Regions from separate parts of the Homo sapiens genome. Here all the other regions are linked to region 2. Evidence: fine-mapped expression QTL. A gene starts in region 2. Each other region holds a variant in brackets. All regions are shown on one strand. Distances are between the middles of the regions.

What was found.
Region 1: its variant is fine-mapped to the expression of GK5 in esophagus mucosa (GTEx, PIP above 0.99).
Region 3: its variant is fine-mapped to the expression of GK5 in whole blood (INTERVAL, PIP 0.94).

Annotation. Positions count from the first base shown.
Region 1 is chr3:142,299,849-142,308,038 of GRCh38, reverse strand. It overlaps XRN1 (5'-3' exoribonuclease 1), which reads left to right. Exons shown (of 41, transcript NM_001282857.2): 41 at 1-1,429. Among named protein-coding and RNA genes, the nearest start is that of GK5, 78 kb to the right of the region's middle. The variant G/A (reference allele first, on the strand shown) is at 3,930.
Region 2 is chr3:142,221,886-142,230,068 of GRCh38, reverse strand. GK5 (glycerol kinase 5) reads left to right here and starts at 4,484. Exons shown (of 16, transcript NM_001039547.3): 1 at 4,484-4,760. The coding sequence starts at 4,614. RefSeq lists silencers at 4,301-4,540, 4,731-4,950.
Region 3 is chr3:142,809,020-142,817,206 of GRCh38, reverse strand. No RefSeq gene overlaps it. Among named protein-coding and RNA genes, the nearest start is that of PCOLCE2, 76 kb to the left of the region's middle. The variant C/T (reference allele first, on the strand shown) is at 4,968.

The DNA of each region.
Region 1 (8,190 bases), 78 kb before region 2:
AGAGCACAGTTTTTTAAAGCAACTGTACAATTTCTCAGCCTTATGAGCTTGCTGTATTTCTTGGTATCATGTTGCTTCCAAATTTTGTTTTTACTGTAGAAGACAATTAATTTATTGTAGAGAAGTGGCTGTGAAAGTCGTTCTCTGTCTTTAAAAATCAATTGCAGAAGTTCATTTGTCATTTTTCTAGAGATAAATTATAGTACTCAAACTGGCAGTGCTCAGTATATACATTTTGTAAGCTTTGTCAGTGAAACCATCAGTTTTGCAGGAGCTTCCTTTCCTAGTCAAGATAAAGCTTAAAATTCCAGAAATTAATGTCGTTCGGACTGACTTTATTCATATTTCCATCAAACTTCTCCAATACAGTAAGAGATAGTGTTGAACCAGCATCAAGTCTCCAGAAACATGGCAGAGCAGACAGGCCGTTAAGTTTCACAGACATCATAGATCCTTTTCTTAAAGAAGAAAAACATGTATAAAATAGTTTTAGTAGTCCAAAATGTCAACTATCTGTAGCTGCTTTTGTGTGTGTGTCAGTGAACAAATAATAATGCCTTGCTCAATCAATGCATTCAGCCATCTCAAGTGCAATTTGTGAAGGAGACTATGGTTTCCAAAAGATACATTTTTTTACAAAGTTAAACCTGTAAAAAGTCTTTTTTTTTTTCCCTCCAGCCGTACACCAACTGCACTTGGTTGTTTCAGCAGTTGGTATACTATTAAATTGTCCAGGCCAAATAGGTTTCTGTAGCTGTTTTAGTAATTTGAAGCCAAATTCTCATGCTGTTTCTCATTAAAAAGAATGAGAATTTGGTCCATAGTTAGCTTTAAGTTCTCTCTTCCTTTCTTTCCCTTACAGTTAAGGGTTTGGTGGGGGATGGGGAGGTTGTTTTCGTTTTTTGGATTTTTTTGTCTTTTGGCTTTAAGTATCATATTTTCTTTTGCCTGTATCCAACTGCTTCTTTGAGTATTTTCATCTAGTTTAATGTGAGTAATAGATGCTGTGCTGTCATTGAAGTGTTCAACATTTTGTTCATTTAAACAAAAGTGTAATTCATACATATATAGATACATATCTTAATTGATTTCTCAACTATTTTATAAGTAACTGGAATTTTTCATTAGATCTTATACAGAGAAGTATTTTATTAAAAATTCAAAAGGGAAGACTTTTATGTGCTCATTTTGTAATTTTTGATTTTAAATATCTTTACATTGTCTGCCAATTAAAGTGTTTTAAACTTGCATTGGAATGGACTCCGAATGTATTTTTGTGGTGTTACGTTATCCGTAGATTTCTAGCATGAAGTTAGCCTCACGATGCTGTGCAAAGGATTTTAAAATATGAGAGTCACTGAAAGAGTTTAAACATCTGTTCATGTTAAATGCTCTATGGATTTTAATTAAAGACTTGAGAATGATTTTATAAGCTGTTTGTTCTTTTATTACTATGCTGATATCAAAAGTAGAAACATTAGTCTTTTTGTTTGTTTGTTTTTGAGACAGAATCTTGCTCTGTCGCCCAGGCTGGAGATCTCGGCTCCCTGCAGCCTTCACCTCCCAGGTTCAAGCGATTCTCTTGCCTCAGCCTCCTGAGTACCTGGGACTACAGGCACATGCCACCATGCCTGGCCAATTTTTTAATTTTTTTTATTTCCATAGGTTATTGGGGAACAGGTGGTGTTTGGTTACATGAATAAGTTATTTAGTGGTGATTTGTGAGATTTTGGTTCACCCATCACCTGAGCAGTATACACTGCACACAATTTGTAGTCTTTTATCCCTTGGCCCCTTCCCACACTTTCCCTCTGACCCCCAAAATCCATTGTGTCATTCTTATGCGTTTGCATCCTCATAGCTTAGCTCCCACTTATGAGTGAGAACATACAATGTTTGGTTTTTCATTCCTGGGTTACTTCACTTAGAATAATAGTCTCCATTCTCATCCAGGTTGCTGCAAATGCCACTAATTCATTCCTTTTTATAGCTGAGTAGTATTCCACTATACACTATGTGTGTGTGTGTGTATGTACATATATGTCTGTATGTACATATATGTCTGTACATATATGTCTGTATGTACATATATGTCTGTACATATATGTCTGTCTGTACACACACACCACAGTTTATCTACTTGTTGATTGATGGGCATTTGGTTTGGTTCCACTGTTTTTTTGTTTGTTTGTTTTTTGAGATGGAGTTTTTGCTCTTATCGCCCAGGCTGGAGTACAATGGCGTGATCTCGGCTCACTGCAACCTCCGCCTTCCAGGTTCAAGCAATTCTCCTGCGTCAGCCTCCCCAGTAGCTGGGATTACAGGCACATGCCACCACGCCCAGCTAATTTTTGTATTTTTAGTAGAGACAGGGTTTCACAATGTTGGCCAGGCTGGTCTTGAACTCCTGACCTCAGGTGATCCACCTGCTTCAGCCTCCCAAAGTGCTGGGATTACAGGCATGAGCTACCACACCCAGTCTGGTTCCACGTTTTTGCAATTGCGAATTGTGATGCTATAAATATATGTTCAAGTATCTTTTTCATATAATGACTTCCTTTCCTCTGGGTAGATACCCAATAGTGGGATTGCTGGATCAAATAGTAGTTCTACATTTAGTTCTTTAAGGAATCTCCACACTGTTTTCCATAGTGGCTGTAGTAGTTTACATTCCCACCAACAGTGTAGAAGTGTTCCCTGTTCACCACATCCACACCAACATATATCATTTTTTGTTCTTTTTTTTTTTAACTAGGGCCATTCTTGCAGGAGTAAGGTGGTATCGCATTGTAGTTTTAAGTTACATTTCCCTGATTGTTAGTGATGTTGAGTATTTTTTCATATCTTTGTTGGCCATTTGTACATCATCTTTTTAGAATTTTCTATTCGTATCCTTAGCCCACTTTTTGATGGGATTGTTTGTTTTTTTCTTGCTGATTTGTTTGAGTTTGTTGTAGATTCTGGATATTAGTCCTTTGTCAATTGTATAGATAGTGAAGATTTTCTCCCACTCTGTGGGTTGCCTGTTTACTCTGCTGACTTCCTTTTGCTGTGCAAAAGCTCTTTCGTTTAATTATGTCCCAGCTATTTATCTTTGTTTTTATTGCATTTTCTTTTGGGTTCTTGGTCATGAAATCCTTGCCTAAGCCAATGTCTAGAAGGTTTTTCCAATGTTATCTTCTAGAATTTTTATAGTTTCAGGTCTTAGATTTAAATTCTTGATCCATCTTGAGTTGATTTTTGCATAAGGTGAGAGACGAGGATCCAGTTTCATTCTCCTACATGTGGCTTGCCAATTATCCCAGCACTATTTGTTGAATAGGGTGTCCTATCACCACTTTATGTTTTTGTTTGCTTTATTGTTGTGGGAAGTCAGGGACCCCAAACAGAGGGACCGGCTGAAGCCATGGCAGAAGAACATGGATTGTGAAGATTTCATGGACATTTATTAGTTCCCCAATTTAATACTTTTATAATTTCTTATGCCTATCTTTACTGCAATCTCTAAACACAAATTGTGAAGATTTCATGGACACTTATCACTTCCCCAATCAATACCCTTGTGATTTCCTAGGCCTGTCTTTAATATCTTAATCCTGTCAGCTGAGGAGGATGTATGTCACCTCAGGACCCTGTGATAATTGCATTAACTGCACAAATTGTAGAACGTGTGTTTGAACAATATGAAATCTGGGCACCTTGAAAAAAGAACAGGATAACAGCAATTGTTTAGGGAATAAGAGAGATAACCTTAAACTGACCGCCGGTGAGCCAGGCGGAAAAGAGCCATGTTTCTCTTCTTTCAAAAGCAAATGGGAGAAATATCGCTGAATTCTTTTTCTTAGCAAGGAACATCCCTGAGAAAGAGAATGCACCCCTGAGGGTGGGTCTGTAAATGGCCCCCTTGGGTGTGGCCGTCTTCTATGGTC[G/A]AAACTGTAGGGATGAAATAAACCTCAGTCTCCCATAGCGCTCCCAGGCTTATTAGGAAGAGGAAATTCCCGCCTAATAAATTTTGGTCAGACCGTTTGCTCTCAAAACCCTGTCTCCTGATAAGATGTGATCAATGACAATGGGGCCCGAAACTTCATTAGCAATTTTAATTTCACCCCGGTCCTGTGGTCCTGTGATCTTGCCCTGCCTCCATTTGCCTTGTGATATTCTATTACCTTGTGAAGTACGTGACCTTTGTGACCCACACGCTGTTTGTACACTCCCTCCCCTTTTGAAAGTCCCTCATAAAAACGTGCTGGTTTTGTGGCTTGTGGGGCATCACGGAACCTACCGACATGTGATGTCTCCCCTGGATGCCCAGCTTTAAAATTTCTCCCTTTTGTACTCTGTCCCTTTTTTTCTCAACCTGGCCGATGCTTAGGGAAAATAGAAAAGAACCTATGTGACTATCAGGGCAGGTTCCCTGATACTGTATGGAAGATCAGTTGGCTGCAAGTATTTGGGTTTATTTCTGAGTTCTTTGTTCTGTTCCATTGTTCTACGTGCCTATTTTTATACCAGTACCATGCTGTTTTGGTGACTATGGACTTATACCATAGTTTGAAATCAGGCAATGTGATGCCTCCAGATTTGTTTTTTTTTTGTTTTTGTTTTTTTTAGTTCTATGAAGAATGATGGTAGTATTTTGATGGGGATTGCGCTGAATTTGTAGATTGCTTTTGGCAGTATGGTCATTTTCACAATAATGATTCTACCCATCCATGAACATAGGATGTGTTTCCATTTGTTTGTGTCATCTGTGATTTCTTTCAGCAGTGTTTTGTAGTTTTCCTTGTAGAGGTCTTTCAACTCCTTGGTTAGGTATACTCCTAAGTATTTTATTTTTTTTGCAGCTATTTTGATTCTCAGCTTGGTCGCTGTTGTTGTGTAGAAGAGCAACTGATTTGTGTACATTAATTTCGTATCTGGAAATTTTGCTGAATTCTTTTATCAGTTCTAGCAGCTTTCTGGAGGAGTCTTTGTGGTTTTCTAGGTAAACAATCATATCATCAGCAAACAGCGACAGTTTGATTTCCTCTTTACCAATTTGGATGCCCTTTATTTCTTTCTCTTGTCTGATTGCTCTGGCTAGGAATTCCAGTACTATGTTAAAGGGAAGTTGTGAGAGTTATTCCAATTCTCAGAGGGAATACTTTCAACTCTTCTTTTTTTTTTTTTTTTTTGAGACAGAGTCTTGCTGTCACCCAGGCTGGAGTGCAGTGGTACAATCTTGGCTCACTGCAACCTCCACCTCCCAGGCTCACGCTATTCTCCTGCCTCAGCCTCCTGAGTACCTGAGACTACAGGCATGTGCCACCATGTCGAGCTAATTTGTGTGTGTGTGTGTATTTTTAGTAGAGACAGGGTTTCACCATGTTGGCCAGGATGTTCTCGATCTCTTGACCTCGTGATCTGCCTACCTTGGCCTCCCAAAGTGCTGGGATTACAGGCGTGAGCCACTGCATCCAGCTGCTTTCAGCTTTTTCCCATTCAGTATTATTTTGGCTGTGGGTTTGTCATAGATGGCTTGTATTATGTTGAGGTATGTCCCTTGTATGCCGATTTTTCTGAGAATTTTAATCATAAAGGATGCTGGATTTTGTCTAATGCTTTTTCTGCATCTATTGAGATGATCATGTGATTTTTTGTTTTTAATTCTATTTATGTGGTATATCACATTTATTGACTTGCATATGTTAAACCATTCCTGCATCCCTGGTATGAAACCCACTTGATCATGGTGGATTATCTTTCTGGATACATTGTTGGATTTGGTTAGCTAGTATTTTTGCATTTATGTTCATCAGGGATATTGGTCTATACTGTTCTTTTTTGGTTATGTCCTGTCCTTGGTTTAGGGTGATACTTGCTTCATAGAATGATTTAGGGAGGATTCCCTCTTTCTCTGTCTTGTGGAATAGTGTCAGTAGGATTGGTACCAATTCTCCTTTGAATGTCTGGTAGAATTCTGCTGTGAATCTTGTCCCGTACTTTTTTTTGTTAGTAATTTTATTACCATTTCAATCTTGCTGCTTGTTATTGGTCTGTTCAGGGTATCTAATTCTTCCTGATTTAAGCTAGATGGGTTGTAACTTTCCAGGAATTTATCCATCTCCTCTAGGTTTTCTAGTTTATGCATGCAAAAGTGTTCATAGTAGCCTTTGTATTTCTGTGATGTCAGTTGTAATATCTCCCATTTCATTTCTAATTGAGCTTATTTGAATTTTCTCTCTTCTTGGTTAATCTTGCTAATGGTCTATCAGTTTTATTTATCTTTTCAAAGAACCAGCTTTTTGTTTCATTTATCTTGTTTTTTTGTTTGTTTGTTTGTTTCAATTTAATTTAGTTCTGATCTGATCTTAATTATTTCCCTTCTCCTACTGGGTTTGGGTTTGGTTTGTTCTTGTTTCTCTAGTTCCTTGAAGTGTGACCTTAGATGGTCTGTTTGTGCTCTTTCAGACTTTTTGATGTAGGCATTTAGGGCTATGAACTTTCCTCTTAGCACCGCCTTTGCTGTATCCCAGAGGTTTTGATAAGTCATGTCACTATTGTCGTTCAGTTTGAAGAATTTTTAAATTTCCATCTTGATTTCATTTTTGACCCAATGCTTATTCAGGAGCAGGTTTTTTAATTTCCATGTATTTGCATGGTTTTGAAGCTTCCTTTTGGAGTTTATTTCCAGTTTTATTCCACTGTAGTCTGAGAGAGTGCTTGATATAATTCAATTTTCTTAAATTTATTGAGGCTTGTTTTGTGGCCTATCATATGGTCTATCTTGGATAAATTTCTATGCACTGATGAATAGAATGAATATTCTGCATTTGTTGGGTAGAAGGTTCTGTAAATATCTGTTAAGTCCATTTATTCCAGGGTATAATTTAAATCCATTGTTTCTTTGTTGACTTTCCTGTCTTGATAACCTGTCTAGTGCTGTCAGTGGAGTATTGAGGTCCCCCACTGTTACTGTGTTTCTGTCTGTCTCATTTCTTAGATCTAGTAGTAATTGTTTTATAAGTTTGGGAGCTCCAGTGTTAAGTGCATATATATTTAGGATTGTGATATTTTCCTGTTGGACAAGGCCTTTTATCATTATATAATGTCCCGCTTTGTCTTTTTTAATTGCTGTTGCTTTAAAGTTTGTTTTGTCTGATATAAGAGTAGCTACTCCTGCTTGCTTTTGGTGTCCATTTGCATGGAATGTCTTTTTCCACCCCTTTACCTTAAGTTTATGTAAGTCCTTGAGTGTTAGGTGAGTTTTTTGAAGGCAGCAGATGGTTGGTGAATTCTTATCCATTCTGCAATTCTGCATCTTTTAAGTGGAGCATTTAGGCCATTTGCATTCAATGTTAGTATTGAGATGTGAGGTACCATTCCATTTATTGTGCTGTTTGTTGCCTATATACCTTGGTTTTTTGGTTGTTGTTTTTTTTTTATTGAATTTTTGTCTTATAGGTCCTGTGAGACTCTTCTGTTCTCTCTCCTTTTCCTTTCCATCATTCCCTCTATCTTTCCTCCCATGCAGTGGAAGATTGTTACAGAGCAATGTAGGGAGAGGCTTAGTTCCTATTAATTCCTATTCTTAAGACTGGAGAAGGCCATGCATGGTGGCTCATGCCTGTAATCCCAGCACTTTGGGAGGCCATAGTGGGCAGATTGCTTGAGCTCACAAGTCTGAGACCAGCCTGGACAACATGGCAAAACCCCATCTCTATTTTTTTTTTTTAAATTAATAGAGATCAGACACAGGAGTTTAAATAAGTTGCTCCAAAAAAATTTGCCAGGTGTGGTGGTGCACACCTGTGGTCCCAGCTACTCAGGAGGCTAAAGTGGAAGAATTGCTTGAGCCCGGGAGGCAGAGGTTGCAGTGAGCCATGATGGCGCCACTGCACTCCAGCCTGGGTGACAGAGAAAAAAACAAACAAACAAAAAACAGAGAGTCTTCACAATAGCAAAGACATGGAATCAACCTAGGTGCCCAACAGCGGTGGATTGAATAAAGAAAACGTGGTACATACACACCATAGAATTCTATACAGCCATAAAAAAGAACAAATTCATGTGCTTTGCAGCAACATGGATGTAGATGGAGGCCATTATCCTAGGCAAATTAACACAGGAACAGAAAACCAAATACAGCATATTCTCACTTATAAGTGGGTGCTAAATATTAGGTACTCATGGACATAAAGATGATAACAA
Region 2 (8,183 bases):
TATAGTGGTGAATTCTGACATTTTAGTGTACCAGTCACCTGAGTAGTGTACATTGTACCCAGTAGGTAGCTTCTTATCACACACCCCCGTCCCACCCTCCCATTTCTGGGTCTCCAAAGTCCGTTATATGACTTTGTGTACCTTTGTGTACTTAGCTCCTACTTCTTTGGTTTTCCATTCCTGGGTTAATTCACTTAGAATAATGGGCTCCAGCTCCATCCAAGTTGCTGTAAGACATTATTTGATTCCTTTTTATGGTTGAGTAGTATTCCATAGTGTGTGTATATATATATACCATATTTTCTTTATTCACCCATTAGTTGATGGGCACTTAGGTTGGTTCCATATCTTTGCAATTGTGAATTGTGCCATAATAAATATATTTGTGTAGGTGTATTTTTCATATAATGACTTATTTTCTTTTGGGTAGATACCCAGTAATGGGAATCCTGGATCAAATGGTAGATCTACTTTTAGCTCTTTTAAGGAATCTCCACACTGTTTTTCATAGAGGCTGTACTAATTTACATTCCCAACAGCAGTCTGTGTTCCCCTTTCACCACATTCACACCAACATCGACTATTTTTTGATACAGTCAATTTAGTTGTACATTAAAAATAAGAGTATAATTTGATTGTTTGCAACACAAAGGATAAATGCTTGACATAAAAGATACCCTATTTACCTTGATGTGATTATCATGCCTGTATCAAAATATCTCATGTAACCCAAAAATATATACACCTACTATGTATCCATAAAATTTTTTAAAAATTAAGAAAAAAGAATGACTGACCAGCTATCAAAGGCCTTAGAAGCCTCTGAGCCCTGTGCCTTGTTGCCCATATACTCCTTTCCCTTAGAGAAGAGCAGGGTTAGAGGTGCTGACAGAGAACAAAGCAAGTGGGAGAAACAGGTATCTCTTTGTTCTCCCAGGCCTCTCCTACTCAACAGTGAAATAAGATCTTGATTTTTATCTGAGATCTTTATGTTTGCTTTACCCAACACCCAGCACCTGAAGTTATGTGCAAAATTTTGTGTGTATAAGCATCTTCTTGGGAAGATAGTGTTCATTATGGCCTCAAAGTTGTTCAAGATCTGAAAACAATTTGAGAAACACTAGATTAAGTGGTTTCTAAGGCCCCTGTTTTCAAATTCTATGATTTGATAATACTCAATATAATTTATTTGAATTTATAAAAAGGATCATTAAGGAAGTGTCAGGTTTCAAGAAGCCAAGAAATATCACTTTGAGAAATATACTAAATATTAACATCAGGTAATACAAAGCCGTTTTCTCTGTTGTGAATGGGGAACTGATATGGTTACTATTATGTGTGAACTTGGCTAGGCTAGTTAGACACACTGTATGCCCAGCTGTTCGGTCAAACACCAGTCTAGGTGTTGTTGTGAAGGTATTTCTTAGAAATAATTAACATTTAAATTAGTAGACTTTGAGTAAAGCAGATCACCCTTCATAACCTGGGTGAGTCTCATACAATTGGTTTTAAGCTTTAAGAACAAAGACAGGTTTCCCAAAGAAGGAAGTCTCCTCAAAACTGCAACATGGAAACTCTTCTTGAGTTTCCAGCCTGCTAGCCTGCCCCACAAATATCCAGGACTTGCCAGCCCTCACAATCACATGAAGCAATTCCTGAAAATAATAAACCTCTCTTTCTCTTTCTCTCTATCCTATTGTTTCTATTTCTCTGTAGAACCCTGACAAGTACTGGACCCATTAGTCATTTATTTCGAATTACAATAATTCACACACACACACGACCAAAATGGCCAGCACTGGTGAAGGCAGTCAGTCCTTGAGGCCACTTGGAACAAATCAGTACTGTTGAACAGGGTACAAAGAAAAAAAACATACTCTTCCAGGTGTATGTTCCAAGCTTCACGTTGTATGGCCAAAGAGCCAATTTTGTCAAATTGTCTGAAAGCAAGTTGATTAACACGACAATTTGGTCAAAAGAATGACTTGGCCCTGTGCAGTGGCTCACGCTTGTAATCCCAGCACTTTGGGAGGCCGTGGCGGGCGGATCACGAGGTCAGGAGATCCAGACCATCCTGGCTAACATGGTGAAACCCCGTCTCTACTAAAAATACAAAAATTAGCTGGGCATGGTGGAGAGGGCCTGTAGTCCCAGCAACTTGGGAGACTGAGGCAGGAGAATCGCTTGAATCCGGGAGGCGGAGGTTGCAGTGAGCCGAGATCGCAGCACTGCACTCCAGCCTGGGCAAACAAGGGCAAAACTCCGTCTCAAAAAAGAAAAAAAAAAAAAAAGAATGATTTGGCTGGGCACAATGGCTCACACCCATAATCCCAGCACTTTGGGAGACAAAGGTGGGAGGATCACTTGAGGCCAGGAGCTCAAGACCAGCCTGGCCAATATGGCGAAACAGAGTCTCTACAAAAAAATGCAAAAATTAGGCGGGCGTGGTGGTTGTAGTCCCAGCTACATGGGAGGCTAAGGCAGTTGGATCGCCTGAGCCCGGGAGGTCGAGGCTGCAGTGAGCTGAGATGGCACCACAGCACTCCAGCCTGGGCGACAGAGCAAGACCCTGTCTAAAAAAAGTTTTGATTCAAAATGAGTATGTATGTATGTATGTATGTAAGTATGTATGTATGTATGTATGTATGTATGTATGTATGTATGTATGTATTTTGAGGCAGAGTCTTGCTCTGTCGCCCAGGCTGGAGTGCAGTGGCATGATCTCGGCTCACTGCAACCTCCGCCTCCCGGCTTCAAGTAATTCTCCTGCCTCAGCCTCCCCCGTAGCTGGGATTGCAGGAGCCCGCTACCACGCCCGGCTAAGTTTTGTATTTTTGTAGAGACGGGGTTTCACCATGTTGCCCAGGCTGCTCTCAAACTCCTGACCTCAAGTGATCCGCCCGCCTCGGCCTCCGAAAGTGCTGGGATTACAGTCGTGAGCCCCCGCGCCCAGCCAAAATGATTATCTTTTACCTTTTAATTGACATACCAGTTGGCACTGTTAAACGTTTTCACACAAAACATATATTCATATGTTTGCTAATTTTACAAAAAGAAGATAAGGAATATTTTCAGGCCCCGGCTTCACAGATTGCTGGTGGCAGTGGAGAGGTGGGTGGCGCAGGTGGAACCACCTCCCCACTACTTGCAGATCAGGACCCTCCCCGGGAAAGCTCCAGGCCCAGGAACCTAAGCCGCAAGAATCTCGAAATTTCCACAGGACACCTTGTTCCTTTTGGCCAAGTGTCTGGATGAGCCCATCCCCTTGGGCAGCAACAAAAGGTAAAGGGTCTCTGTGAGGCTTTCAGATTCCAAAAAAAAGCAACCGCTGGAGTGGAGTGTGATGGTCAAAGCAGCCACCTTAAGCTTTCTCCTTTCTTTCCCACTAGAGGGCTGAGAAAAGTCTTCTTCCTTGCGTTGTATTTCATTTGGCAAATATTTACCGCTTTGTATTGTGTGCAAACTTTACCAGGTTTTCTGGGAAGAGAAGTCGTGGGGAGCTCTCAGTTTGTTAATAAATATTAATACTTTTGGCCAAATTTTGAATTTTTTATGTCACTTGTTTTATTTCATTTTTGAAAAACAGCACTTTATTTCATTTAACTCTAGCATATTCAATGGCTGTGCATTTAATAATACTGAAATAAAGTCGCACCCAAAATGTTAGCAAAAAAATGGAAACTATATATGGTAGTGACCTCTACAAATGTTTTAAGCTTGAAAAATTCTGCACGAACGCAGACACAGGTTAGTCTGCCAAAGTTACTCAGATAAAAATTTCTCCAACCCTCAAGTCATAATCATAGTTGAGAAATGAATAAATGTGCCTTATGGCACCTCCAAACTTTTTGAGATTTTTATATAAACTAGCCTATACTTCTCTCCTTACGATTAGCATATGGGGTAGCTATTTTTCTTTAACAGAGATTCTTCAAATGTAGCTAGGGTTAAGAGAAACGCTGGCGCTGCCTCTCAGGAAGCTGGAGAAGCAAAAGAAAAAATTAAGAGTTAAGGGCCGCCGGGCTCGGTGGCTCACGCCTGCAATCGCAGCAATTTGGGAAGCCGAGGCGAGCGGATCACGAGATCAGGAGATCGAGACCAGCCTGATCAACATGGTGAAACCCCTTCTCTACTAAAAATACAAAAATAGCCGGGCGTGGTGGAGCGCGCCTGTAATCCCAGCTACTCGGGAGGCTGAGGCAAGAGAATCGCTTGAACCCGGGAGGCGGAGGTTGCAGTGAGCCGAGATCGCGCCACCGCACTCCAGCCGGGGCGACAGAGTGAGACTCCGTCTCAAAAAGAAAAAAAACAAGAGTTAAGGGCCAAGTCAATCCAACCGCGGCCGGCGACTGGAGGCTGAGCATGGCTGGCGATCTGGGGCTGCAGATCACGGCGCAAACCCGCTCACCTCCACCCCTCCCGCGCGGCCGCCGGCGCGCGCCCGTGGCGTCACGGCGTCGGGGTGGAGCCGGCGGCAGGGGCCAGGCCTCTCTAGGCTCTCCGGCTGAGCCGGGTTGGGGCCCGGGTTGGGCCGCCCGGGGACTCTGGAGCATTGGGATTTGTAGCGCGCCCTCTGGGTAGGCGGCTGTAGCGGAGAGGCGTGCGGGATCGGGATGTCGGGGCTGCTCACGGACCCGGAGCAGAGAGCGCAGGAGCCGCGGTACCCCGGCTTCGTGCTGGGGCTGGATGTGGGCAGTTCTGTGATCCGCTGCCACGTCTATGACCGGGCGGCGCGGGTCTGCGGCTCCAGCGTGCAGAAGGTGACTTGGGGGCGGGCGTGGGGCGCGGGTCTGACTGGGTTTCGCTGAGTCCCGGGGTCCGGCCTCGGGAGGCGAGCGGGCAGGCCCCACCTACCGCCCTGGACGCGGCCACCTGCAGCACCCGCGGGCCCTGGGGCCAGAACGGCGCGCCCAGACCGGCTGAGTCTTCGCGTTCCCTCCCTCGTCTGGGCTGAATCCCGCGCGCCCTTCCTGTCCAGGCTGAGGGTGCCAGGGGCCCGGTGTATGACCTGGGCCGCTCGCTTGCCTCTTGCCACCTGGGGAGCCACCTGTCCGGCCTTACCTGGATGGGACTGAGGTGACTCGCCGGACGGGACTGGGCAGGCTGTGCACATCCAGCCAGAGGGTGGTTTGTGAGTTGCTTGGTTCTTCCTGCACTTCCCTGATAGATCTCCCACCACATCTTTATTTACATTTTAATTTTTCAAAACTTTTTTTCTTTTTTCTTTATTATAGCCTTTGGACTTGTGCCTCAATAACTTTTCATATCTTTGTAGAATTTAAGTTTATTCTCTATTCTTCACTTGTCATCTTTATTAACTACTACTCCACAAAATGCTGGTTCCTTACGTGAGCAACTGATTGCCGTGGATATTAGAGGTATTGGGCAAGTTTTGAAGGCTGTGTGGTCATCAGTTTTCTATTTTCCATCTTTGAGAATTCATAAAATTCTTTATTTCCCCTCGTTTGAGAGACCTGCCAAATCATTGGTTGGTTGTTAGTAAAGCCTTGAATTGTTGATAATATTGGTCAGCAACCAACAAATTGATATCCTTCTGTTCTCATATTAATGAAGTGTTGATTTATACACAATTGTCAATGCACCAAAAATAATATTTATTTGTTATGGTGTTCTTATTGTTGTTCCTTTTTTTCTTTTGAGACAGGGTCTCACTTTGTCACCCAGGCTGGAGTGCAGTGCTGTGATCTCGGCTCACTGCAGCTTTGACCTCCTGGGCTCAAGTGATCCTTCCACCTCAGCCCCCCAAGTAGCTGGGACTACAGGCAAGGGGCCACCATGCCTGGCTAAATTTGTTTGTATTTTTTAATAGAGATGGGATTTTGCCATGTTGCCCAGGCTGGTCTGGAAATTCCTGGGCTCAAATAATTCACCCGCCTCGGCCTCCCTAAGTGCCAAGATTACAGGCGTGAGCCACTGCAGCCAGCCTGTTATGGTGTTCTTATTTTCTCTTCCCAGTACCAACATCTTTTTATGTTAGAAATTTGAGGGAGGGCCGGAGCCATCAGTTACCTAACCATTCCCAGCAGCACTGTATTCCCCCTTTTTCTCAGTGTCCCGTTCTTCTTCCCACCACCTTAGAGGTGTTTTTCTTTGTAGCACTTGCCCAGGAGCAAGGTCCAGCTAGAGTGCCAGTGAGTAGTGACTGCTTTGAGCATTTGTTCTGGGGAAACATCAGACTTCCTTCCATTAAGTTTTTCTTTTTTTTCTTTTTAGACGGAGTCTCGCTCTGTCACCCAGGCTGGAGTGCAATGGCATGATCTCGGCTCACTGCAACCTCTGCCTCCTAGGTTCAAGCAAGTCTCCTGCCTCAGCCTCCTGAGTAGCTGGGATTGCAGGCACCCGCCATCATGCCTGGCTAATTTTTGTATTTTTGTAGAGACAGGGTTTCGCCATGTTGGCCAGGCTGGTCTTGAACTCTTGACCTCAGGTGAACCGCCTGCCTCAGCCTCCCAGAGCACTGGGATTATAGGCGTGTGCCACTGTGCCCGGCCTCCATTCAGGTTTCAGGACCAAGACAGTGGAACTGGGATTGTAGCAGCTCCCTGGTCCCTTCTCTGGCTAGCTGTGTGGGAACACTGCCCACCCACCCACACACTATCCCTATCCCAGCCTGAAAAGAAAAATGAAAGGCAGACACCACCCTTCAGTGACTGGGTACTCATTACCTTTCTAAGAGTATTTATCACAAAAACGATACTTTTTAAAGTCTCCCTTATAATTCTAGACACAAAGTACTTTTAAGCACTGTTTTTTTGTTTGTTTTTGTTTTTCTTTTAAGGAATTGAAATATTTGGAACCAAAGGGAGAAATGAATTACTAGAAAATGCAAAGTTTCACAGTTAATATATAATTTGGGGCAGATCATTAGTTTTTTTAGGAATGAAGTGAGGAATCTCAAAGATGGATCAAGATTGCTGTGAGTGGCAGGAGGCCAGGAAGATTTGCACAGACTCTAAACTGTGGAAAATGTGTCTGGATAAAAGAAAGATATGAGTAAATAAAAATACAAAAAAAATGCCTGCTCTTCCCGGATAAAGCACAGTCGTAGATTAAGAAATGTGCAGCAATGCCTCTCTGTGTGGTAGGAGTTTATAGCAGTACTGCTTAAAGTGTAGTTACGGGGCTGCTGGGATTGAGATAATAAAAGAAAACTAAGCATTTAGAAACTTGTGTAGCAACTTAGCAGAATAATTTTATGTCTATTGACTCTAGTAATGAAACGTTTGGGATTTTATTTTGTATGCCTTTTTTTTCTGGAAACTTTATAAAAATTATTGTTATTTTTAGAGACAGATTCTAACTCTGTCCCCCAGGTGGCCTGATCACAGTTCACTGCAACCTTGAACTCCTGGGCTCAAGCAATCCTCCTGCCTCAGCTTCCTAAAGCTCTGGGATTACAGGCACGAGTTACTGCACTAGGACTAGAAACTTAATTGTATCTTAAAAATTGCTGGTCCACAATGAATATAATTTTTTTTTTTTTTGAGATGGAGTCTCGCTCTGTCGCCCAGGCTGGAGTGCAGTGACTGATCTCGATTCACTGCAAGCTCCGCCTCCCGGCTTCATGCTATTCTCCTGCCTCAGCCTCCTGAGTAGCTGGGACTACAGGCGCCCGCCACCAAGCCTGGCTAATTTTTTGTATTTTTCATAGACATGGGGTTTCACCGTGTTAGCCAGGGTGGTCTCGATATCCTGACCTGGTGATCCACCCGCCTCGGCCTCCCAAAGTGCTGGGATTACAGGCATGAGCCACTGCGCCTGGCCAATGAATAGAAATTTTTTAAAAAAACAATTAGCAACTGGTCCTTTACTGCAGATAATTTGAGTTTTTTGGGAACAAGGATCTTGTTGGTCTACATTGCTGCTTAGTACCTGGTTTATTACCTCATTGTTACAGAATAAATAATTGAATTGCAGTTAAAATGTTAGGAATTCATGGGGCTCTATGACTTAGACACAGAACTTGATTGTGTTTATTCTGTCAAGTGAAAATTACACCTCTTGTAATATTCCAATGGAAAGAATGTATAATAGAAACCTAAAACCTCTTAGTGTATGATTTGATTATACTGGGAAAGAAATTTTTAAAAAAGAAAAAATAAAGAGATTCCCCTTTGTAGACAAGAACAAAATAGGCTGTGAGAAGACGTCAATCTTACTTC
Region 3 (8,187 bases), 590 kb before region 2:
GCAGCAACCAGCCCTGTAGGAGGTTACCAGCCAGGGGCTGTGGGAGAGCGGATAACCATCCCTATCCAAAGAAGGCTGAAAGAACATTAGGGATGAACAAAGACGTGGGTCACAAACTCTTCCACGGTAGAAGCAAAGTTTTGGAAATAAGGGAAAATACTCTTTTAGATGAAAACAATAATTCCCAGCCCTAGGATGACCAGACATTTAAAGGGTGGCAAAATAGAAGTTCAGAAGGAACTCTGTTCCCTCTGTTACGGCAGCTGGGTGAGCCTAAGGAAACGACAAAATTGGGCTGACAGGCAGGTCAGAAACTGCTCCTATACTTTCCCACTGAGGAGCCGTCAGCAGGAAGTAGATGAACTAGAAGACCCTGATGACAGTGGGTGACTGGCTTCCCTGGCCAGTGTCAGCTTTTAGAAAGTTCTCTTAGCCAGCTGAACTTCGCAGACCAGCTGCGCCCAGCACAGGATGTAACTGTGGACTCCTCATTGATTCCAGCCTTCTCAAAGCAAGTTGCTTCCCTTTAAGAATACATGTTCCGGGACTTAGGAGGGAATCCTAAAGATTTCAGTATTTCTTCTTTCTGAATAGAATCTCCTATTGGTGAATTACAAGCAGCATGCTGGCGGGTATCAAGCTTCTGCATGACCAGCGGAAAGACTTCTTCAGGTGAGTGGGGGCTTGAGTCACAGTGGGGTAAAAACTGAGAAGAGTAATCTAAACTATTCATACTATTGACATCTCTGACACAGTATTTTACAACTGCTTAGGGGATTCACGGTTAAAAGTGTGTGGCACTGGTTTGTCTTTTACTTCAGTTATTCAAAACATAGAGATAAGATGAATCGTGAAGCTGCTCTTTCTGGAATAACAACCACTTTGTAATTTCTTTCCTTTTTAAACAATCATTTTTCTATGGTTTGACTGTATCCTCCAAATTATGTGTTGGAAAGTAAATCCTCAATGCAACAGTGTTGAGAGGTGGGCTCTTTTATGAGGCAGAGCCCTCACGAATGGATTAATGCCATTATCATGGGAGTGAGTGAGTTATCGTGAGAATGGGTCCTTGGTAAAAGGATGAATTTGGCCCCCTGCGTCCCCACTCCATCCTTGTCTTTCTCTTTTGGGCATGCACATGTGTTGATGTGTTCATGTGCTCTCTTGCGTTTCCACCTTCTGCCATGGGATGATGCTGTGAGAAGGCCGTCACCAGATGTGGGCCCTTGACTTTGGACTTCCCAGCCTCCAGAACTGTAAGAAATAAATATCTGTTCTTTATGAATTACCCAGTCTCAGATATTCTGTTATAGCAGCACAGAACGGACTAAGACACCTTTATTTTGACTGAGGTTTAGTTTCCTTAGTTATAATTTGAGGGAGTTAGACTACATAACTTCTGGGATCCCATACTATTTTCTCTTTTAGGAATTGTTTATTTTTCAAGAATAGTTGATAAGGTTTTGTTTTTGTTTTTAAGTATTTATACTTGGGGAATCAAATACACATGAAGAATGAATAGGTGACCATACTAACATATCACAAAACATTTCAAAATTATAAATAAATCTCACTGTTTCAGAGCATCTTGCTAGCTTGATTTTCATCCTTTGAATTCCTGTAAATGAACATTTAAGATTTTTCCCAAGTTCCCAAGTCTTAAATTCTGTAATTTACTTCCAAGTTAACCTTAATTGGAAGACATTTACCTTCTTTTCTTTCATGTATTAATAGACTACTGCTACCAGGCTCCCATTTACTTCTGGACTATTTAAATGGTATCAACTAATGACAAAAAAAACTCCCTTAAAGAAAAGCCCTGTAATTAAACAGGCACTAATGAGAAAGTTCTAACGTGAGTTAAGTAATATTAATCAGAAACACCTTTTGCTTGAGTTCATGGATTCAAGCAAACAAATTTATATTTTTTATATAAATGGAAACAAAAAATTTGCAATTAAATTCAATTAGCAAGCAAATGTTTTTTAAAAAGATTTGACCTAAGTATTCTAAAGACCTCGTATTGAGAGAGAGAAAGATAAAAATATTAACTTAGGACTTTGATAATTTAAGTATTTACATTAATTTTTCTAGGGTAATATAATAAAATAATAATATAAATAGAGCATAAATAATATAAATAGAGCATCAACATTTAAAACCAGCAGAGGAAAAAAAAGAAGAAATTAAAGAAAGTGAAACCAGGAAAAATACAACAAAATAAGGTAAAAATACAAACATATCAATAATTTCAGTAAACACCTAAACTAAGTCCTGAAAGTTATACGTCAAAATGGTCAGACTGGCTTAGAAAAAGAAATACAGCTATGTGCTATTTGAAAGAGACATCTAAAACATGAGGACACGGAAAAGTTGAGAGGAAAGGGATAGAAAAAGATAAATACAGTATACCAGGCAAACATTAACCAAAATAAAAATGGTATGGTTTTATTAATACCAGAAAAAAAATACTTCAAGGCATTACTCAAGATGAAGAGAGTTACAAGGAGATATAACAATTCTAAATTTGCACACAGCTAATAACATCCTTCAAAATATATAACTAAATCTGATATAGTATAAATAGAAATGGACAAGTTTACCATCATAAGGGGAGGTTTTAACATGTTTCTCTCAGTATTGACAGATTTAAAAGAGAAAACATTAAAAATATAGAAGTGTTGAACCGCACAATTAGCTAGATTTACCTAACACACATATGTAGAACAGAACCAAGGGCACATTATTTTGAGCTCGTATGGAACAATTTCAGAACTTGCCATGCACCATGAAGCAAATTCCAACAAATTTCAAACAACTGGTATCGAACAGCCTTCTCTAACAGTAAATGACTAGAAATTAATAACAAAAAGTAAACAACAAAAAACAAGAAAAAAATTGGAAATTAAGAAATGTACTTTCAACTCATGATAAAAAGGAAACCATAATGGAAAACAAAATATTAAAAACTGAACAATAGAAAAACTGCATTTTAAAATGTGTGAAATGCAGCTTAAATAACACTTTAAAATTTATAATCTTACATGTTTACATTATAAAAGAAAGGATGGAAATTATTAATTTGTGAATGATACAAATTGGGAACTTAGTAAAAGGAAAACACCATAAACTTTTAAAAGGTAGGATAAAATAGCATAGAGCAGAAATTGAATAAAATTGTCATCTTAAATAATAGAAAAAAGGAAAGCCAAATGTTGGTTCTTTAAAATGACTAATATAATTGACAAAACTCTGACCAAATTAAGAAAAGCTAATTTTTGTATTTTTAGTAGAGATGGGGTTTTGCCATGTTGTTCAGGCTGATCTTGAACTCCTGATCTCAGGTGATCCATCTGCCTTGGCCTCCCAAAGTGCTGGGATTATAGGCGTGAGCCACAGCACTGGGCCACGAATAGCCTCTTTTTGACAAAGGCTCTCTGGATGTACAAGTGTGGGATTGCCCATGGATGCATGGAATCGGGTGTTCTGGGTGAGTAGCTCTGGGATATACATAAAAATTTGTTCTGAAGTATTCTAAAGTTATTATTAAAAATCCTGGTTTTGATTTTTTTGTCATTTGCTTCTCCCTTTTAAAAACAAAATCAACAATTGAGTTTAAAAGGCTAAAATTTGATTAGATATAAATGAAACATCTTTGCCTGAATGATGTCCCTGTAGCATTCTAATACTAAGATTGGGTTAGATTTCAACGAGATGAAGCTTTTAAGTATAGAAACCTATGAAGAAAATTTACAAGCTGAAAGTAAGACTTCATATATCTGATTAATTCATCTCACAAAAAAACTGATATTAATAGTAACATAATGCAGGTAAGAGCCTCCCAGCTGAAAAGGAAAAAGACTTGGATTCTCATTCACAGTGTGGCAATGGGAGAACTTTAGTTTCCTTATCTGTAACATGAAGTTGAATTGGATACTTTCTGAGATCCCTTATGGTCTTAAGTGGTTTCTGGATCCTTGAATATGTACTTTTTTTTTTTTTTTGAGATGGAGTTTCACTCTGTTGACCAGGCTGGAGTGCAGTGACGTGATTTTGGCTCACTACAACCTCTGCCTCCCAGGTTCAAACTATTCTCCTGCCTCAGCTTCCTGAGTAGCTGGGATTACAGCCGCACACCACCATGCCCAGCTAATGTTTCACTATGTTGGCCAGGCTGGTCTCAAACTCCTGACCTCAGGTGATCCACCTGCCTTGGCCTCCTAAAGTGCTGAGATTACAGGCATGAGCCACTGCGCCTGGCTGAATATTCAAATTGATTAGGATAGAAAGTGGCACAGAAATAAAATTCACCAGTCTGTGTGCTTTAAACACTCTGGTCCCTTCTGGTCTGGCTGTTACTTTCTGAGGCTAACTCCCCCTTTCCTATGATGTTCACTACCTACCTGTCCATCCTTTTCCTCCAACTCTTGCTCATCTTGCTGGTCTCTGCTTGACCCTCGTCATAAAAGTTTTTAACAAATTAGTTATTTAGAAAAGTAGGAACTTAAGTTCTGTTTGCTGACCAAGATGAACCTACAATGAGAAGCTAATTCAAAAATGGAAAGCTTTTGGATATATATTGACTGATAGGAAAAATCAATTGAATTCAGTATCTCCAGTCAGTATATACACTTGGACAAATTACTCAAAATGCTAGTTTTCCTGTATATTAAATTAGAAGGTTGAAGTAGGGAATCTAAGTTTTCTTTTAATGTAGTTTGAGAAAATAGGATCTGGAGCACACAATTGTTAAGAGTATTTAATAAACTAGTTGTCATTCCTAGAATATTTACACTAACGGATAATGGCTAAATTTTTATTCAATAACTTTGTGCCATTCAACATTAATACTATACTTAGAGTGAGGATACAAAAGAGAATGAGAGAACTGTTCCTTCTTGTGCCTGGTCTTGTTTTACAGCTTTTCAAAAGAAAGAGGCTGGGTGTGGTAGCACACTCCTGTAGTC[C/T]CAGCTACTTGGGAGGCTGAGGTAGGAGGTTCTCTTTAGCCCAGGAGTTGGAGGCTGTAGTGTGCTATGATGGCACCTGTTAATAGCCACTGTACTTCCAGCCTGGAAAATATTGTGAGACTCTGTCACTGGGGTCAGCGGGGGTGGATGGGAGAAGAAAACATCTGCATTCAAGCAAACACAGAAAATATTGTGATTGCTTTTTCCGTTGAAATAAAATTGGAGGAAATGAATTTTAAAATGAGAAGCTGAATTACCTCACAGAATTAATTCAATTTCTGAATGAGTTACTGAGGTAGCTTGTGCATTTTCCTCCTTAAAATTTTTAAAACAGCACTCAATCATTTTATCTCATTTTTTTTTTTTTTTTTTTGAGGCAGAGTTTCACTCTCGTTGCCCAGGCTGGAGTGCAATGGCGCAATCTCGGCTCACCACAACCTCCACCTCCCGGGTTCAAGCTATTCTCCTGCCTCAGCCTCCGGAGTAGCTGGGATTAAAGGCATGCGCCACCACCACGCCAGGCTAATTTTGTATTTTTAGTAGAGTCAGGGTTTCTCCATGTTGGTCATGCTGGTCTCAAACTACCGACCTCAGGTGATCCACCCACTTTGGCCTCCCAAAGTGCTGGGATTACAGGCGTGAGCCACCATGCCCGGCCCATTTTATCTTTCAATAAGAATAAATTTGCCTAAAATTGAAGGATGAATTAAATAACCTTTCTAGTGGGGAGAGAGAGGGAGAGAGAGATAATTTTCCAGATTCTTGGTAGCAGGATGAAGAAAAAGGAACTTACTGTGTCACATATTGGATTGGCTGGGATAGTAGTTTTTGTTTTTTGTTTTTTTTTTAAGTATACATTTACCTCCTACACAAACCTGCTGTTTTGCCTCTTTTATTACTATAATTTAATTTATATCAGAAATCATGTCTCTTAAAGATGGTTTTTTTTGTTTGTTTTTTTGTTTTTTTGAGACAGAGTCTCGCTTCATCGCCCAGGCTGGAGTGTAGTGGCGTGATCGCGACTCACTGTAAGCTCCGCCTTCCAGGTTCATGCCATTCTCCTGCCCCAGCCTCCCGAGTAGCTGGTACTACAGGCCCCCCCCACCATGCCTGGCTAATTTTTTTGTATTTTTAGTAGAGATGGCGTTTCACTGTGTTAGCCAGGATGGTCTCGATCTCCTGACCTTGTGATCCACCCGCCTCAGCCTCCCAAAGTGCTGGGATTACAGAAGATGGTTATTTTTAAAGCATCAACTAGTATATAAAAATTTTCCTAATTTATGTGTTGCATATCTGAAGTATTTATTTCAGTCTGGGGGCAGGGAGAGCAGAATAGGAAAAAACAATGTGAAATTATCAAATGAAGAGAAGCACTGTAATGGGAAATTCTTCTAAGTATATCCTCCAGAAACACAGCTTGTTTATGAATGGGGCCGTGATGCCAGAAAACTAATACATTAACTTATAAATGAGGAATTCAGAGCAGTGATTATCCCTGATACTATTATTAGTTTCTTAGTGTAATCTGAATAACTAGACCCAGTTGGTTTACTCCCAGGATCTATACCCTCAATTTATTTGGTATTTTATACACGTATTTTCTGAGGAAAACAAAAATTTTGAAGTCTAAGGAATCAAAGAAAGTTTTCTTTATCAGGTAGAAAAGAGATAATAAGTATTTATTAATAAGATTAAGAGCACTTCCACTTTTATCATTTTTTAAGAAAGACTGTCAATGATTAGCAGTTGGTTTGTATCCTTCAAACAATTAATAACAACAACCTGTAGTTACTTTAAGGAAAGATGTTAAGCTTTGAAATCTGAACACATAACTAAATGATAAGCAAACTGGTCTTCATTGGGATTGCATGTGAGTAGAATCTCATTCTATTTTTTTAGTTATTAATATATAATGCTATTAGATTTCAATGCTAAAAACTATAAAACATTGCTAAGGGAAATTAAGGAAGACTTAAATAAATGAGAAGCTACATCATGTTGATAGTTTAGACAATACTGTAAAGACGTCAGTTCTTCCCAAAGTGGTCTCTAGTTTCAATGCAATTCCAATAAAAATCCCGTTTATTTTTTAAGAAATTGATAGATTCCAAAATTTAAATGAAAAATCATAGAACCTGGATAGCAAAAATAATTTTGAAAAAGTAATACGAAGTTATTCACCTTGGCATTTATTACTGTACCCCACTGTGCTGTGTGAGTGATGGGCTACCAACTTGCAGATGCAAGCACTGCTTTCTTTGGCAGTGGTAATGAATTTTAAGATTCCACTGTTATTTTCTTATTTATTTTAGTATGTTGTAGCATTGTATTTTAGATTTTTTGTCTGGGTTATTAAGGCATAATTTCTATACATTAAAATTCACTCTTTTTAAGCATACAGTTTGATGAGCTGTGCAGTCAGTTGTCTCCTAGACCACTAGACCCTGGTACTCAATGATCTGATTTCAGTTCCTATAGTTTTGTCTTTTCTAGAATGTCATCTAAATGGAACCATACAGTATTGTAGCTTTTTGTGACTGGCTTCTTTCACTTACTTTTAAAATCCATCCATGCTATTGCATATATCAGCAGTTTGTTCCTGTGGTGGCTTTATAATGTATCAACTTGGCTAGGCCTAATTATGTTTCCCAAAATTCCCTTTCTTGTATGCTTCCAGTTACAAGAGACATTTTAGTGCAAGACTGGAGAGCAGAAGTGAAGCAGCAGCCGTTTTGTTCTTGATGCGGGCACTTCTGCAGCTCACACGTGCTGTAACTTATCTGCTGGTTCACTTTGCTAATGTGGGGCAGCAGCCAGGCCTACAGTTGACCCACCTTTCCTTGGATCCTGCTTCAGCTTCTCTTGATTCCTGGGCCAAGTGAGTGTTTAGTAACATACTTGCAAAAGCAAGTGGCAAAGGGCAACACTTCTCCAACAGGGTACCACATCATAAGGTTGGAGATGTGAGGAGTCACATGGGACTCGGTCTGTCTTCATGGGTTCTAGCTTGTCCCTGATCTCTCCCACTTGACATCCATCTTTTCTTCCCACCTGCCTACCCTGTGGACTTCCAGCTCTGCTCCAGCATTAGATAAAAAAACAGGGACTTACAGAGACTGCTTACCAACTCCAACAGTTGTGTAATGTCAGATCCCTGTAAACAAATCACTATACACACACATACATGTGTGCCTGCAAATATCCTAGTAGCTCTGTTTCT